Linked DNA regions of Homo sapiens. The protein of the gene in region 4 purifies or fractionates together with the protein of the main gene of each other region. This does not show direct contact. Each region holds a gene or a part of one and is shown on either strand. Other genes may lie near its edges.

Region 1 (4,057 bases), on a different chromosome or scaffold from region 4:
CAAAAGAGCCAATCAAATATCTTGTACTGAAGTCCAAATCCCTTCTAATTATCACATATAAAAGTTGCCAATATATACTTACTGGAATCAGGCATAATGCGAAGGTCGCCTTCTTTGTAATCATCTAAGAGTTGGTACATGTACAAGACAGGGTCTTTCTCATAGGTAATGTAAAACCATGTGTTCATGACAGGTGCACGTGCTAAGACCATTCCCCTCCACTCATCTTTAGAACCATCCTCTGTCTCAAACATATGTTCCACTGCTTTGCCAATCATTGTGTCTGCCAAGTGTGCATCGCTGATTCGAGATGTCGCTGGGGATTAAAAAAAAAAAAAAAAAGTTGACAAAGTGTTTCGCTGATTACCGACTATGAAGACTGAATTTACTAAAGAAGGCTACACCTGAAATTTTGTCCATGCAACGTATTAGCAAGCATCAGAATCTGGGAAAGCTTTAAAAAGTACAAAAACCAAAGACAAACTACTGGGCCCCAGCTCAGAGATGGATTCAACAGAATAGAAGTATTTTGTCCCAAGTCAGTTAATTGAAAAAAATATGATTTTTTATTTTTCTGGACTCATCTGCTCTTGGTTCTGTACCCAAATCAAAAGTTTTAATTGTTCATTCAAGGTATAAAATACTGTTTGTTATTGTTTACTTAACAGTTAAATTTTGAGATAATTTCAGACTTACAGAAGAACTGGAAAAATAGTAGAGTTCCTGTATACGGTTCACTTTGCTTCTCCTGTATTAGCATCTTACATAACCACAGAACGTTTATTTAAAACTTAGAAAAGCTATTCAAGGCACAGAGGGTTTTTTTTTTGTTTTTTTTTTTTAAAGAAATTGGTGTTTGTTTTCCTTCAGTCTTATTTCCATTTTTTTATTAAGGCATAGGTTTTTACTCTCTTGCTCCTACAATCTTATTCTTCACTGCAACCAAAGTAATCGTTGTGTCACTGATACCACATTGTGTGATCTAAAATGTTCCCATGCCTTCCCTTTATAATTTGAAAAACAACCAAACTGCTCACCATAGCCCCCAAGCCCTAAAAGCCTTCACGCCTCTGCCCTCAGGTTTCCCATCTTCCTCCTTGTTGTTCATGCGTTCTCTACTCTGCTCTTCTTCCTCTCCCATTAGGACACACTCTCCTCTGCCTGATAAGCTCTTCCCCATACCTTCAGAAGGCCGGTTCCTTTTGGAGTTCTCCTGACCAACAAGGTAGCCCCACAAATCCCAGTCACATTACCCAATTTTACCTCTTAATAACATTCACCATGATCTAAAGTTATCCCACTTTATGTTATTTGTGTACTTGTTAGTTGCTTGTACATCCCCATGAAAGCAGAGACCTTCCCTTTCTTGTTTTATACCTAGATCATAGCAGGTCAGTATTTGTATGATTTAATCAGATACCCCATGTGGTTGGGAGCTCAGGTCTCTGAAATGATAGATTAACGGTCCTAGCCCTTAATATTTTTCAAAAGTGGTGAAAATTATCACCTTCATCTTTTTAATACTGGAAAAACTATGAAGGATCCCATTGGTTTTAAGACTTCTCCAGTCCACAATTTTAGATAACTGTCTTTATACCAAATTTAAACAATTATCTTTAAAAAACAAACAAACAAACAAACAAACAATTAGAGACAAGCACGGTGGCTCACGCCTGTAATCCTAGCACTTTGGGAGTCCAAGGCGGGCGAATCACTTGAGCCCAGAAGTTTGAGGCCAGCCTGGGCAACATGACAAAACCCCGTCTCTACTAAAAATACAAAAAATTAGCCAGGTGTGGCAGTGCAGGCCTGTAGTCCCAGCTACTGAGAAGGCTCAGGTGGTGAATCACCTAAACCCAGAGGTCGAGGCTGCAGTGAGACAAGATGGCGCCACTGCACTCCAGCCTGGGCTACGGGAGTGAGGCCCTGTCTTAACAACAACAAAAACAACAACAACAAACAATTAGCTCTCCTATTTTCCTCATTCAACAAACTTCTATTTCTGTTACATCAAAAGAAACAAAAAAGTGAGATTTTCTTGATACATGTATTGCTATTTAATTTTATCAGCAAACCCTAAACATGTATGGCTGGTTTTAAGTACGCAGTAATAATAAAAAATTACACAGAATTCCCCCCGTGTATGACAGTAAAAAAACCCCACTAGTTTCTTAAAGCCAGTAGATCTCAGACTTAGATCTCAGAACTCCATGTGCATTCTTAAAAATTACTGGCTGGGCACAGCGACTCACATCTATAATCCTAGCACTTTGAGCCCCAGGCAGGAGGATTGCTTGAGGCCAGGAGTTTGAGACCAGCCTGGGCAACATAATGAGATCTCATCTCTACAAAAAGTTAAAAATTAGCAGGGTACTGTGGTGAGTGCCTGTAGTCCCAGCAACTCAGGAGACTGAGGCAGGAGGACTGTTTGAGCTCAACGTGTTGAGACAGCAGTGAGCCCTGATCACACCACTATACTCCAGCCTGGGTGACAAAGCGAGATCCTGTCTCTAAAAAAAAAATTAAAACATAAATGGAAATTACTACAGACCTAAAAAAGCATCTGTTTACATAGATAATGCCTACCAATATTTACTACTTCAGAAAATGAAAAACAAATCTAGAAACATTTATTTAAAAATACCTATATATCAATGCATTTTAAATTAAAAATAACTATTTCCTATCAAAATACATTAAGAGTGGCTTAATTTTACATTTTTGCAAATCTCCTAATGTCTAGGTTTTAAAAAGAACAAGTAGATTCTCATATCTGCTTTAGCACTCAATCTGTTATGATCTGCTCTTTCAGTTCAGGTATAAAATCCAGCCTCTCAAAGATATGATACTGAAAAGAATATTCTAATCGTCTTTCAGATAATTCTAGATATACTTATATGAAACCACAGAATTCAACAGTTAGCTCCTTAAAGGTTAGTTACAATGCAGAATCTGAAACCATTAATAAATCTGTCATACTGTTACATTAAAACTCATGTCTCCAGAACATATAAAGAACTCTCACAACTCAACAAAAATCAAAATAACCTAATTAAAAAATGGTCAAAGGATGTGAGTAGATATTTCCCCAAAGATGATTTACAAGTGGCCAACAAGCACATAAAAAGATGCTCAATATCACTAATCATCAGAGAAATGCAAATCAAAACAAAATGAGGTATCGTATCACACCCATCAGGATGACCACTATGACAAAAACAGTAAATAGCAACTGCTGACTAAGGGATGGAGAACTGGAACCCTTGTATACTGTAGGTAGGACTGGAAAATGGTACAACTGCTGTGGAAAACAGTATGGTAGTTCTACCTAAGAAATTAGAATTACGATACTAAAATTAAAATTATAATTACCATATGATCCAGCAATCCCACTCCTGTGCCTATATCCAAAACAACTGAAAGCAGGATCTCAAAGAAATATCTGCATATCCATGTTTACAGGAGCACTATTCACAATTTTACATGGTACAATTTTACATTCTACCAAGAGGTAGAAGCAATCCAAATGTCCATTAATGGGTGAACAGATAAACAAACTGTGGTATATAGATACAATGGAATGTTCTTTTCAGCCTTAAAGGAAATCCTGTCACACGTTACAACATGAACCAACTTTGAGGACATTATGCTAAGTGAAATAAGTTACTCACAAAACAAATACTGTGTGATTCCACTTCTATGAGATATCTAGAATAGTCAAATTCATAGAGACAGAGTGTAGAATGGTGGTTGCCAGGGGCTGGGAATGGGAGGAAAGGTAGGTTGTTTTGTTTAATAGGTAGAGAGTTTCAGATTTGTAAGATGAAGTAGTTCTGGAGATCTGTTTCAACAATGCGAATGTACTTAACACACTACTGAACTGTACACTTAAAAATGGTTAGGACAGTAAATTTTATGCTATGTTTTTTTACAATTAAAAAAAAAGTAGTTAGTCTTGCACTTTGAATAGCTCTTTCACCAATGCATGATGTGGTACCATGCACTGCTCATAAAGAAAATATTGTGTTCACTAAGTTATGCAAATCTTCCAAATAGA
Region 2 (4,057 bases), on a different chromosome or scaffold from region 4:
AGAAAAATAATCTGAAACAGATTGGGCTTCTAGAGGGTAAAAATAGATTTGGAACATGGATGAGCAAAACACTCCAAGAGGAAAAACTGTGATGATTTCCAATTCGGTGTTCACAATGTAATGACATTAGTCGGAAATTATAGAAGGTCCAGAATAGCATGGAAATGTGAAACACATGGCTCACACAGAAGGATTTTTACTTTATGTCATTCCTACTGTCCATAGTAGACTTAAATAATATTTTACAAGTAAGTGTAAAAGATTAATTGCTTTATTCTGGGAAATAAATATGTTAAATCTGATTTAACAAACTGCTGGGGGTGGAAGATAGAGTACTATAAGAAGGGATGTGCAAGGAGCCAACATTTACCTTCATTGGAGATAAGAAACAACAGACCTAAACTAATTAAAGTAATAATTAGTGATTTATTTCCCTTTAGAGAATTCCTCCAACTGCTCAAACCAAAGAAGAAAATACAGCATAACCTGCCTCATTAGGGTGGAATTGATCACTTTATCTGGATGAACAAGCATTTTAGGAGAGAAAAGATTATGTACATAATATTTTCCCAGCATGGACAACATAGTGAGACCCCATCTCTACAAAAAATTTTCTAAAAAATTAGCAAGGTGTGGTGGCATGGACCTGTAGTCCCAGCTACTCAGGAGGCTGAGGTGGGAGGATTGCTTGAGCCCAGGAAGTTGAGGCTGCAGTGAGCTATGATCATGCCACTGTAATCCAGCCTAGGCAATAAAGTGAGACCCTGTCTCAAAAGAGAATGATATTCTTAGTGTTACTGCTCTCTCTTCTACTACATTATAGCTTTTTCAGGAATACTATAAAGTGGAACAAGACCTGCAAAACTTGGCCAGGCATGGTGGCTCACACCTGTAATCACAGCACTTTGGGAGGCCAAGGCGGATGGATCACCTGAGGTCAGGAGTTTGAGACCAGCCTGGCCAACATGGTGAAACCCCATCTCTACTAAAAAAAAAAATACAAAAATTAGCCAGGTGTAGTGGTGCGTGCTCGTAGTCCTAGCTACTCAGGAGGTTGAGACAGGAGAATTGCTTGAACCCAGGAGGAGGAGGTTGCAGTGAGTCAAGATCGCGCCACTGCACTCCAGCTTGGGCGACAAGAGCGAGACTCTGTCTCAAAAAAATAAGTAAATAAATAAATAAAAGTAAATAAAAAGACCTGTAAAACTCTCAGTTTCCTTATCTATGAAATAAGGATAACAATATCCATCCCACAGTTATCTGAGGAGTGTCCTAATGTGGAGCACATATAAGCCTTTATTAGATCTTCTTTTTATTTTGTATTCAGAGCAGCACAATATAATTCATTGTAACATTTCTAATATCTAGATCGGGAACACGGGTCTCTACCAAAGACAAGAAGATGCAGCCAAAACAAACAGAACAGGAGAAACAAACATTCTGTTTTCAGCAATTCATCACACAACCATGAGATTCAAACACGTATAGATTTCAATCGTTATTCATTATTATTGTTTTAATTTTTTATAGATACAGGGCCTTCCTCCATCGCCCAAGCTGGAGTGCAGTGGCATGATCATGGCTCACTGCAGCCTTGAATTCCTGGGTTCAAGCAATCCTCCTGCCTCAGACTCTTGAGGTGCTAGGACTACAGGTGCACGCCACCGCACCCAGCTAATTTTTACATTTTTTGTAACAACGGGGTCTCACTATATTGAGACCCAGGCTGGTGGCAAACTCCTGGGTCCAAGTGATCCTCTTGGATCCTCCCAAAGTGCAGAGGGGTCACTCTACAGGCATGAGCCACTATGTCCAGCTGGATTGCAATCATTATTTATTGGAAGCCACGAAAACGGATATTTTAAGGAATATATAATCAAGTTAAGGATTTAGAAATCTATTTGGCTTTGTTAGTTGTTATAGTGTTTACGTATAAGTAAAATCATGTAAAAATGTTTAAAGTGCCTTAATTTTAAAACAAGAACATATGGATATAGATTTTGATATAATCATAGATATAAAGCTATAAATATATTTTAAAAGTGAAACCCCATCTCTACTAAAAAGACAAAAATTAGCCGGGCGCGGTGGTGCACGCCTGTAATCCCAGCTACTCAGTAGGCTGAGGCAGGAGAATTGCTTGAACTTGGGAGGCAGAGGTTGCAGTGAGCCGAGAGCGCACCATTGCATTCCAGCCTGGGTGACAGGGTGAGACCCTGTCTCACACACAGACACACACACACACACACATAGTGGAGACTTCTAATTATAACATGCATTTTGAAATCGTGAATTTGTGCGATGTTTCTAAAAGGTCTCCTACTCATATCTATTTTTAGACTTTGTAAAAAAATGATCTTAAATTAGTATTACAGAGCACTGTATAAAATTGGGAGTATCTAAAAGAGCTGTTGCTGTGAAAATGAAGACAATGAAGCCCATATAGGTTGCATAACCTGTCCAGCCATCCAACTAATGGTAACCATATATTTTAATTTTTTCTTTGAACTCTGTACTATAATTGGTTATAAGCAGACTTGAATGTTTCTCAACCATAAAGACACCAGAAGTATTATTAACGACACAGGACCTTAGAACAGGATCTTATTTCAATAGTCCCAAATTGGAAACAACAATTGGGCATCAATGGGAATGGATGCACAAATAGTAGTATATCCTTCCACTGGAAATAAAAGAAGAAAATAAGCTACATACTATTGGTACACATAATAAATATGAACCCCAAAATCATAATGTTGAATGAAAGAAGCCAGCCCCCCCTCAAAAAAAGGATACTTATTGTATGATTCTACTAATATAAAATTCTAGAATAGAGAAATCTAATCAACAGAGGCAGAGATCTGTTAGTGGTTGCCTGCAGATGGGGGTGAAGTTAGTGACAGATCACAAAGAGGCATAAGGACTTTTTAGGGGGTGATGAAGATGTTCATTATGTTGATCTTACTGATGGTTTCACAGATGTATGTTTAAATCAAAACTGATTAAAAAGTGTGTACTACCTGTAATATGTGCAATTTATTGTATCTCAATAGTTGGTAAGAAAAAGCCTTATTATCCAAACTTGTTTCATAGCTCCTTTACACAGATATGAAAAAAAAAAAGGAAGTATAATACTTTCTTGTTAGCAACAGTAAGCCCAGGAATTTCAGGTACTAAATAAGAGAAGTAATGTGAAAATTATCTAGCTCATAGCCTTAAAAAAGGTTTAATTTATTTCATAATAGTGCTTGCTCTGAGATTAATGAAAAAGGTATCAAAGCTTAGAAGAATGGGTAACTCTACAAGTCATATAAGCCAGTTAAACACAGTTCAGTGATTTCAATTTCCTCTTACATACTGTTAAATGAATGCTGTCATTAACTATGATTTAAATGGGTATGTTGGAAACAGATTTTCATTTTCATCTGGAACTTCTTGGCATTCTAATAAATAAAAAGCCCCACTTAGAGTCTGTCTTTCTGGAGAGCAGTGGCTGGCAGATGGGAATCACTTAAATATTTGCCGAGTTTATTTCAGATTGACCAAGATGCCAGGCTAGACTTTGCTGAAAAGTTGTTAGTTCAAAGTACTAGAACTTATTGTCTCATCTAGAGTTTTTCAAAGTTGAAAAACGTATGAAAGAAAAAAAAAAAAACTCACTTCACCCACTTTAAAAAAAATGCCTCTTTTTGGCACAAATATAAACTTTGCTTATGGCCTTTCTTCAACTATAAAATAAAAATTTACTTTAAATTTAATGCACACAGAACTACAAAATCAGTAACATTTAAAACTGAGTTAACTTGACAGATGTTGTTTTGCTAGAACTAAATGACCTCTCAAAGTGAATATTGTATGGACTGCTATGGTACTGTTTCATGTTTTGTTTAGTTTGTTTTTAGGTACAGCCTGTTTATTACCTATGGGCCCTGTGATACCTCTGCTCTGCCACTTTCTGCCACTTACCTGTTTGACACTAAGTTTCCTAACTTCCCAGTTCCTCAGTTGCCTTGCCTATAAAGTGAAGATTACTATATTTATCACAAACACAAGCAGT
Region 3 (3,881 bases), on a different chromosome or scaffold from region 4:
AGGCCATCTCTTTCTCTTGGGTTCTTCCTAAGGTTAAACAGTCAGTATGTCCCATCTCTCCTTGTAGGGCTTATCACTCTTTGGGATTTGGTTTGTTTGCCTTGTAATTTCAGTTCTTTGATATGTTCAAGAAAAAAAGCTTTAATTTTATAGATGACCCAGCCTTTTCTCCTTGTTAAAATGGGAATGACAGTCTCTTGAGGTTTTCCACATCTTCTTGAGAAGCAGAGCTCTGACTACCTCTACTAAAGTTAGTTGATTTTCTGTTACTCTCTTGTCAGTATCATTTCCATCACTGCACATATTAAAATTAGTAATTTTTTTACTTTGTCTCCTCCATTAGACTTTAATCCTATAAAAACATATACTACATCGCTTCATTGTTGTAATCTATTATACCTAGCACCATAATTGTACATATAGTACTCAAAACTAATACATACGACAGGTATTCATATTTTCAAAAACCAAAAACATTAACCCAACATACAGAAAATACTGTTAAAAAACATCCATGGAAATATTGATGAACAGAGGGAGAGGAGAGGCAAGAGCCCAAATGCAAACTGGGAAATTGTATTCTGAACCATCAGTTAGGTTTTAATTTATAACCTGCCTGGAGACTGTCTACAGTGTTGACTGAGTTCAAAACATAAAGCACAAATAAGAAAAGTATACCCCAAACCACACTTCTTTAATTAAGCTCTAAGAAAAACTCAAATAAATGAAATAGTAAAACTTTGATCAGTAATTCCTTATTGTTTATTCTCCTCTTACAAAAAGACACTTGGGACAAATAAATACAAAATGGCATATATCATATTTAGCAATGGGCAAATACACATTTTCTTGGTATTCTCCACAAGAATAAACTAATAAAATTTTCAGAGGCATACTCTTCTACCCATCTCTTACCCTCTAAAAAAAAAAAAGGCAATTATTTTAATTCCCTGTAATTTTTAACAATGAATTCTCAAAATAAGTAATCTAGGACTATTCAGGGACCAAGACATCTGAATCAACAAGTTAAAAAAAAAATGTCTGTATACACACACACACACACACACACACACACACACACACGATGTTGCCCAGAAGCTCCAATTAATGAAGAGTCTTAAAAGTTTTTCATTTCATATAGTTTGCATGAATAGAGCCTGTTCTATTCTAATCTCAATGGCAAATAATATAAAACAGAAAGCTGAACACAACATGTGTGTGTGTGTGTGTGTGTGTGTCTACTTTTCTGTCCTAAGAGAAAACATTAAATACAGGTATATTTAATATACAGTGAACATACCATGTGTTTTCTTAAAGCCAACAAAATCCTGATTTCCTATAGCTTGGAGGTGATACAGAAGGCAGAAGACAAATATCAAATTTAGCTAATAAAATATACCCTGCCTATTGGCTCCAGCAATACACTATAGAGTTTGAGCAATGACGGATACCCAAGTGTATATGTTTTGTTAAAATTTATCTTCAGGCTAATACCTGAAGAGGTTGGCTAATACTTTAAATCAAATATTCTTACTTAATGATTTATCCATCAAATGGAAATATGTACAACATATTTCAAATCAGAAAAGGGGTGAATTTTCCCCCTGCCCTTCAAAAAAATATTTTTAAAAATCCACTTGAAATAATTTCTTATTTGATGCTTTTTAATCACTTTCCACTTTATGACAACCATTTTTCTAGAAAGGCAGACAAGAATATAAAATGACTAAGGGGTCACTATGAAAACAATCAAATGGATTTGAAATTTACTTCTGTGTATTTTCTGTACTCCCTAAGTCTTGTGCTAATTAATTACATTTTACTTCATCCCCTGTAATGTTACAAATATGCACCTTAAAATAGAAAAACTTGCTTTTATATTTTAAAACCCCCTCCTCCTTACCTATCTTCCCAAATATTTTAAGCAGAAAATTAATCTTGTTGCTTTAAGGATTGATGTAATATTTGCGAAAAACAACCCCTAATAAACCCTTTAGACTTTTTCGAACCAGCACCAAATTTAAGGGGTTTATTCACTCTGAGGTTGCATGGAAGATGGAAATTAAAAATATCAGTATAAGTAGAACCACATTTAAGAAAAAGCACCTAAAGATGGAGGACAGATAATTCTAACATCCTACACACACACAGTGGTAAACCATATTCATGTTTCTATGTATGTAATAAGTTCTCCAAAAATCTAGGTATTTTTGGTTCTGGTACTAAGTCTAAATTTTTTTTTTTTAAATTTCAAAGGCAATTTAAAACTGGGGGGAAATACATTTTTAAAATTTTGGGGTTGAAGTTCACTACACTATGAGACTAATTTCGTATGTGGCAAGTTGCAACTCTCCAAAGGTGTGAATAAACATCAGAAAGCCCAAAGTGAAGAGCCAGTACATCAACATGCATGATCAGGAATCCTATGAAAGTCACAAGGCATTGGGATTTGGTGATTTACATTAACCTCCTCCTGGTAGAAGATAGTGTTTCATGATGAATGCAGACTGTGCTCACTGCTCATGAGACACACACATCACTACTGCTGAGGTCCCACTTTGTGATAATTTAGAAATCATCCAAATTTAACTCCAGAAAATATAAATCTGGAATATGAATGTGAAGACAGACAGTACAAACAGCAGTTGAGTGAAACCTGCCTGTAACGATCTTTATTTTTTTTTCCTTTAAGGCTACAGAAAATCTGTACATAAACAAGGCAATTAATTCTCATAATAAAAATAACCCCTTACAAATAGCCAAGGTGTCCAGTCAGATTCCATAGTGAGTATATGTTGTATCACATTTTATTCCACTTGTGTACTTTTTTGTGAGTCTGCTGGGTTAGGATCAATTCTTTCTGGAAATATTAGCTTCTCACAAACTGCTTCCTTTATTGGTAAATACTGGGATATTTCATTAGGTTCCGTGAAGAGGGAAGGTGGAACATGCTAGGAAATACATAAATCATATTAGCATATTCAGTTACTGTACTGAAATTTTTTACAAATGTTTTGGTTCAAGCATTCATAAAGCATGGAAATTTTAAAATCAGGTGCAATATATGCATATGTGCTCCTAAAAATAATAGGTATTTCTTGATACGGAATCATTCAACTTTGTTACTGAATGATTTCATCAAAGATCACAGGGTTATATAATCTATAATGTTCCCACAAATGTCCTAAGAATTTAATACATCTTAATCCAACCCTATGTATCTCCTGCTTTTGTAACTTGAAAACACTAGTCTTCGGTTAGAGCACAGCATGTAGTCTACAATAGAATCTAAGTAGTAACTTTTCTGTTCCAAGTATACTCTATACCCAGACAGAAGTACATACTAAGCGTGAAAAAATAAAATCAAGTTTATAGGAAGGTACCAATTTTTAAGCAACCCATTATAGAATCCTAAGTTCTAAGGAAGGCTTCACAGGTCCCGGGGAGTAAAAAATAAAGAAAAATGATGCCAAAACAAACAAATTATGGTACAGAATCACCACATTTTCGGAAGAGAAAAGGAGACTATGTAGAAAGAAATAAGGCGGCAGGGTGGTAAGTGTAAAGAACATCCATCACCAGCCAGCTATGTGACTCAGAGTAAGTCACACCTCTGGGTTTCAATTTCTCTAGAACAAAATGTGAAAATTAGATTAGATGAGGCTTAAGTACCTAGCAGCTCTAAATGTTCTTGTATTTGAGGTAAGGTCAGAAAAGTTATGCTCCCATAGAATTTATCCTATAGAGCCCCATTAGGTGAATGAATGGGTTTAGGGATGTAAACTTGGGTGGTTGGGGTCAGGGGTATATGCTACTTAAATTAAAATGAAACATTAAAATTAACTTCTAAAAACTGAAATTTAAGTACTTGCCATCAAACT
Region 4 (4,057 bases):
GCCTGGTGGGCAGTGGGCTGGGTACCTGGCTGCGTGCAGCCGGCTGGATGAGCTCCGCAATGGTCACCTTGCCCTGCTGCAGCCGCCGCTTCACCAGCTTGGAGCAGCAGATGTTGACGGAGCTGAGCACATGCCAGCTGTTGTACTCCACGAAGGAGCGGCTGTCGATGACCAGCGGCCCCCCAGGCCCGCCCCGCAGCAGGCTGGCCAGCTTCTTGGCATCCATCACCTTCCTCGGGAGCCGGTCCCCAGCCATGGTGGGGCAATGGGTGCTGGGGAGGGTGACCCCTGAAGTGAGGAGGGGCTGCTCCGACGGCCCAGGTGTGGCCTCGCGCTGGGAGTGACCTAGCACATGGTGCTGGACCTGCAGGGACAGGGGGATGGTCAGCAGTGCTGCGGGCCCCTGGGTGGCACCCAGAAGCTCCCCAGGACAGATCAGAGCTGGGAGCTGCGCCCACCAGGACACACCAACATGTGCCCGTGGGAACCCTTCTCCCTCTGGAGAGACCCCGTCCAGGTCACAAGGCCAGCTCTCAGCAGGATGCAACAAGGCAGAGGGGGGCAAATGGGCCCCACAGAGAAGGGTCTGAGGGCTGGAAGAGGCCAGGGGTCCTTCCTGTGGGCCCTGGGGTTCACGGACCCTTAGGCATTCCAGAACATTCCATCTCATCCCTGGGACACAGGCATCTCCCTGCTGTGACTTCTGCATCTTTTCCACCACAGGACCCCCAGCAAGTCGGGGTCTGGACTGCACCTCACCCTCCCACATGGTCAAGCTCTCTGCCCTCCTCCGGGCTTGCTGTCCTCACACCTGCCCCTCTCTCCCTAGCACAGCCCCAGGGAGTCCAATCCCTGGAGACTTGACTCCAGGGCAGCTCCGTAAGCCGATAATCCAGCCCCTGGTGGATGGTGGCCTTGGGGCTGCCTCCACTGGAGAGTGGGCTCCCGGGGGCAGCCGGATAGCAGGCGGGTGCGGGAGGGGCTCAGGCACAGAGGCACGGCTCCTTTGCCACTGCTGCCCTCCTGACCTGCAGGCTGAGGTTTAGTGTGCGCCACGTGCCTGCTGGGGGTGAGTGCCCAGCTCCTGCAGGGGCGTGTTGCACCCACACAGTGCCTCTCCCCTAGCGGAGCCTGGGGTCTAGGAGGCTCCTTCATGGGCTGATAGGGCCCAGGATGGGAGGGGCGGGGCAGCCCTGGGAGGAGGGTCAGTGTCGGGGACCCCGCAGGTGCCAGGCCCTCGGCATGGCCTGCAAAGGCCTCAGACTGCCGGGTGGGCAGGTGGAGTAGGGATGTCTGAGGATGGAGTCTCCGGAAGCCCCTCCTGCAGGCTTGATGACAAGCCTGTCACTGCCCCACTGCCGGGCCCCATCTCCCTGTCACCTGCCAGGACTGGCCTTCCTCTGGGTCCACTTTACACTCACAGCCCCTAGGAGGCGCATAGTGTTAAGGATGATGAGTTTGCTTTAACTATGGGGAAACCGAGGCTTGGGGCAGGGTTGGGACCTGGGTCACACCTGGGTCACACACAGATGGGCACTGGGTGTCCCTGCAATGCCATCTTCCCTGTGCCCCCACAGCTGCCAGGCAGTCAGGAAGTTTACTCCACCCAGCTCAGGACTGAGGGAAGGCTGGGAGATAGATGTACCCTGGGCCCTGCGCCCTGTGCAAAGCGGGCTACGGTGGGTAGCGGGCCCTCAGCAAGCCAGACCCCCAACCCACAGCCACAGGAGGCACTGGGGGGAGGCGCCCTGAGGACACCCATGCACTGCAAACAGCAGGCTGGGGACAGAGGCCACCACCGTTTCTGGACTCTCCAGGTCAGCTCCCAGGCCGGCGGGGGCCAGTGAGAGAGTTCACAGAGCAGCAGGTGCAAGGCTGGTGTGGACCTCGTCCCTGGCCCAGCCCCAACTCCACACTGAGGGGCAGGTCCCAGCTCCTCCCTGCCCAGGAGCCCCAGCCTCGCACTCACTCTCCTTCTCCAGACACTTCAAGCTTGGCCCCTGCCTGGCCCCTCCCGCCTCGACTGGGCCCAGGCTTCTGTGCATTCCCACCATCCCTCCTGTTGCCAGAGGCCAGGGAAACACCTGACTGTGGATGGGCAGCCTCAGCTGACCCCACGGCTGACACCAGGGATTGCAGTGGCACCTGGTCAGCAGGGCCTCAGGATCCCACTCAGATAACGTTCCTGGGCTGGTGCTCCAGCCTCCACCACAGGGTGGGGAACGAGGCCTGGGAGTCCTCTCCAGGGCCAGACCCAGCAAGTTCAACAGCAAAAGGGCCTGCTGCCTGCCTGCTGTGGAGGGTCTCTGCCTGCCAAGGGGGTCCCTGACTACCCACAGGGGGTCCTTGATGAGCTGTTTGTCCTTCCCGAGTTCTACCTGAGCCTTGCACAGGTGGTGAGAGGCGAGGGCCCAGATGTGTGGTTCTGGTGAGACAGCGGCTCCAGGTGCCCCGTAGGATACCCAAGGGTCCAGCTCAGAGACCCAGAACCCCGAGAAGGCTGCAGTGGCAGGGACACTTGGGCTGGGGGTCTTTTGAGGAGCTGCCCCGGCCTCAATGTCCTCATCCGTTAAGTGGGGGTGGATTCTCTCTCACTGAAAACAACAGAAGCAAATACCCCCCAGTGCAGGGAGGAGGGCAGGTGTGAGGAGAGGCCCTCGCCCTCTCTGCAGCCAGGGCCTAGCCTTCATGCAGCCCTGAGTCCTGACACTGCCATGAGAGACCTCGGTGCAGCCAGCCAGATCTGAGACCCAGAGGGAGGGGAGGGAGGAGGGCAAGTCCAGCTGCAGGGTGGTGGGCAGGGGCTGGAGGGGCGGGAGGACGGGTCCTGGCCTTTACCTGGCCCTGCTCTGCCTCCTAAGCAACGCTGAGCTGGAGCTGGGCCTATCACCCACAATAGTATTGTTATTTGCAGCCGAAGGGGATTCATTAGCAAGTTAGCACCTCCATCGTCACCATGGCAACAGCAGAGGTGCCAGGCAACCGCTGCTCCTGCGGCAGCCACCACCATGGAGCAGGCTCCTCTGCAGAGTGGGCACGCGCCCCTCCCTGCTCTCTCCTACCCACCCCAGCAGGTGCCCGGCAGTGCAGAGCCCAGTCCTCAGCCCCTCCGCTCCTCTGCCCTACCTGGTCCTAACCTTCCTTCCCACTCCAGGTACCTGCTGTGCCCAGCATGCTCCCTGCAGCTCGCCGGCTCCCCGCCCCCTCAGAGGCCTTCTCTGTACTGCGAAGGGCTGGCCGAGTGCCCCCTCCTGCAGGAAGCCTCTGTGCCATGCTGGCCTCTGGGAGAGCATCCTCACCCACAGGGTCTCCCTGGACCTACAGCTCCCAGGGGGACATGTTCCTCACCTCTGTCTCCCCAGATGCTAAGGATCGGGGCTCAGCTATGCCAGGGATGGGGCAGGTTGGGTGGGGTGGGGAGCAGAGACACTAAGGACAGTCTGGTGCAGATCAGTGGGGCCAGCACTGGCCATGTGGGAACAGAGGTAAGGAAATGTGGATGGTGTTGGTTCCATGCCTCTCCTTTCACGGCCCCACATGCCAAGCCCTCCTGAGTACCTGTGGCCCTGCTATTCCAGTGCCTAGGGGTTGGGGGGTGAGAGGCAGGGCTGGGGACAGGATGCCCCCTAGCACAGCCCCATACACCCTTTTCAAAAGTCTTTGAGCCCAGGAGGAAGCAGTTTCCAAGTCCAAAGTCAGAAGAAGGCTCCTCCCAGGCCCACACCTTCCAGGAGGCACCAGGCCGCCACCCTCCCCTGGGACACAGCACGCCTGGCTCCAGTGCTGCGTGCACACTGCCCTCTGTGCGTGCCAGAACACACCTCTTTGCACACCCACTCCACACACAGGGCTGGTGCTCCTTACCCACAATCCACCTGCCCTGTGTGCAAGTACCCACGCGTGAATATGTGCACACGCGTGGGCTGGACATACACTAGAGTACACGCACGTCCTTGCCCTCTGTATGCAGGATCCCCTGAGAACCCCAGGACTCCAGTACCCGAGGGGTCAGCTTCAGACTCCTTACAAACACGAGCTCCCACACCCAGCGTCTCTG

What was found. The genes of interacting proteins can lie anywhere in the genome.
Region 1: the proteins of DUSP8 (region 4) and SPIN1 purify together in Homo sapiens (affinity purification with mass spectrometry, with the first as the bait; one large-scale study listed by BioGRID). This does not show direct contact.
Region 2: the proteins of DUSP8 (region 4) and ANKMY2 purify together in Homo sapiens (affinity purification with mass spectrometry, with the first as the bait; one large-scale study listed by BioGRID). This does not show direct contact.
Region 3: the proteins of DUSP8 (region 4) and TIPRL purify together in Homo sapiens (affinity purification with mass spectrometry, with the first as the bait; one large-scale study listed by BioGRID). This does not show direct contact.

The regions. Positions count from the first base shown.
Region 1 is NC_000009.12:88,464,631-88,468,687, reverse strand, and holds part of SPIN1 (spindlin-1), read right to left. Parts: intron 317-4,057; coding exon 83-316; intron 1-82. UniProt on the Homo sapiens protein: Chromatin reader that specifically recognizes and binds histone H3 both trimethylated at 'Lys-4' and 'Lys-9' (H3K4me3K9me3) and is involved in piRNA-mediated retrotransposon silencing during spermatogenesis.
Region 2 is NC_000007.14:16,639,011-16,643,067, forward strand, and holds part of ANKMY2 (ankyrin repeat and MYND domain-containing protein 2), read right to left. Parts: intron 1-4,057. UniProt on the Homo sapiens protein: May be involved in the trafficking of signaling proteins to the cilia.
Region 3 is NC_000001.11:168,198,973-168,202,853, reverse strand, and holds the end of TIPRL (TIP41-like protein), read right to left. Parts: coding exon 3,873-3,881; intron 2,952-3,872; coding exon 2,808-2,951; 3' UTR 745-2,807; downstream 1-744. UniProt on the Homo sapiens protein: May be a allosteric regulator of serine/threonine-protein phosphatase 2A (PP2A). Isoform 1 inhibits catalytic activity of the PP2A(D) core complex in vitro. The PP2A(C):TIPRL complex does not show phosphatase activity.
Region 4 is NC_000011.10:1,565,571-1,569,627, forward strand, and holds part of DUSP8 (dual specificity protein phosphatase 8), read right to left. Parts: exon of another isoform or gene 2,379-4,057; intron 365-2,378; 5' UTR 257-364; coding exon 26-256; intron 1-25. UniProt on the Homo sapiens protein: Has phosphatase activity with synthetic phosphatase substrates and negatively regulates mitogen-activated protein kinase activity, presumably by catalysing their dephosphorylation.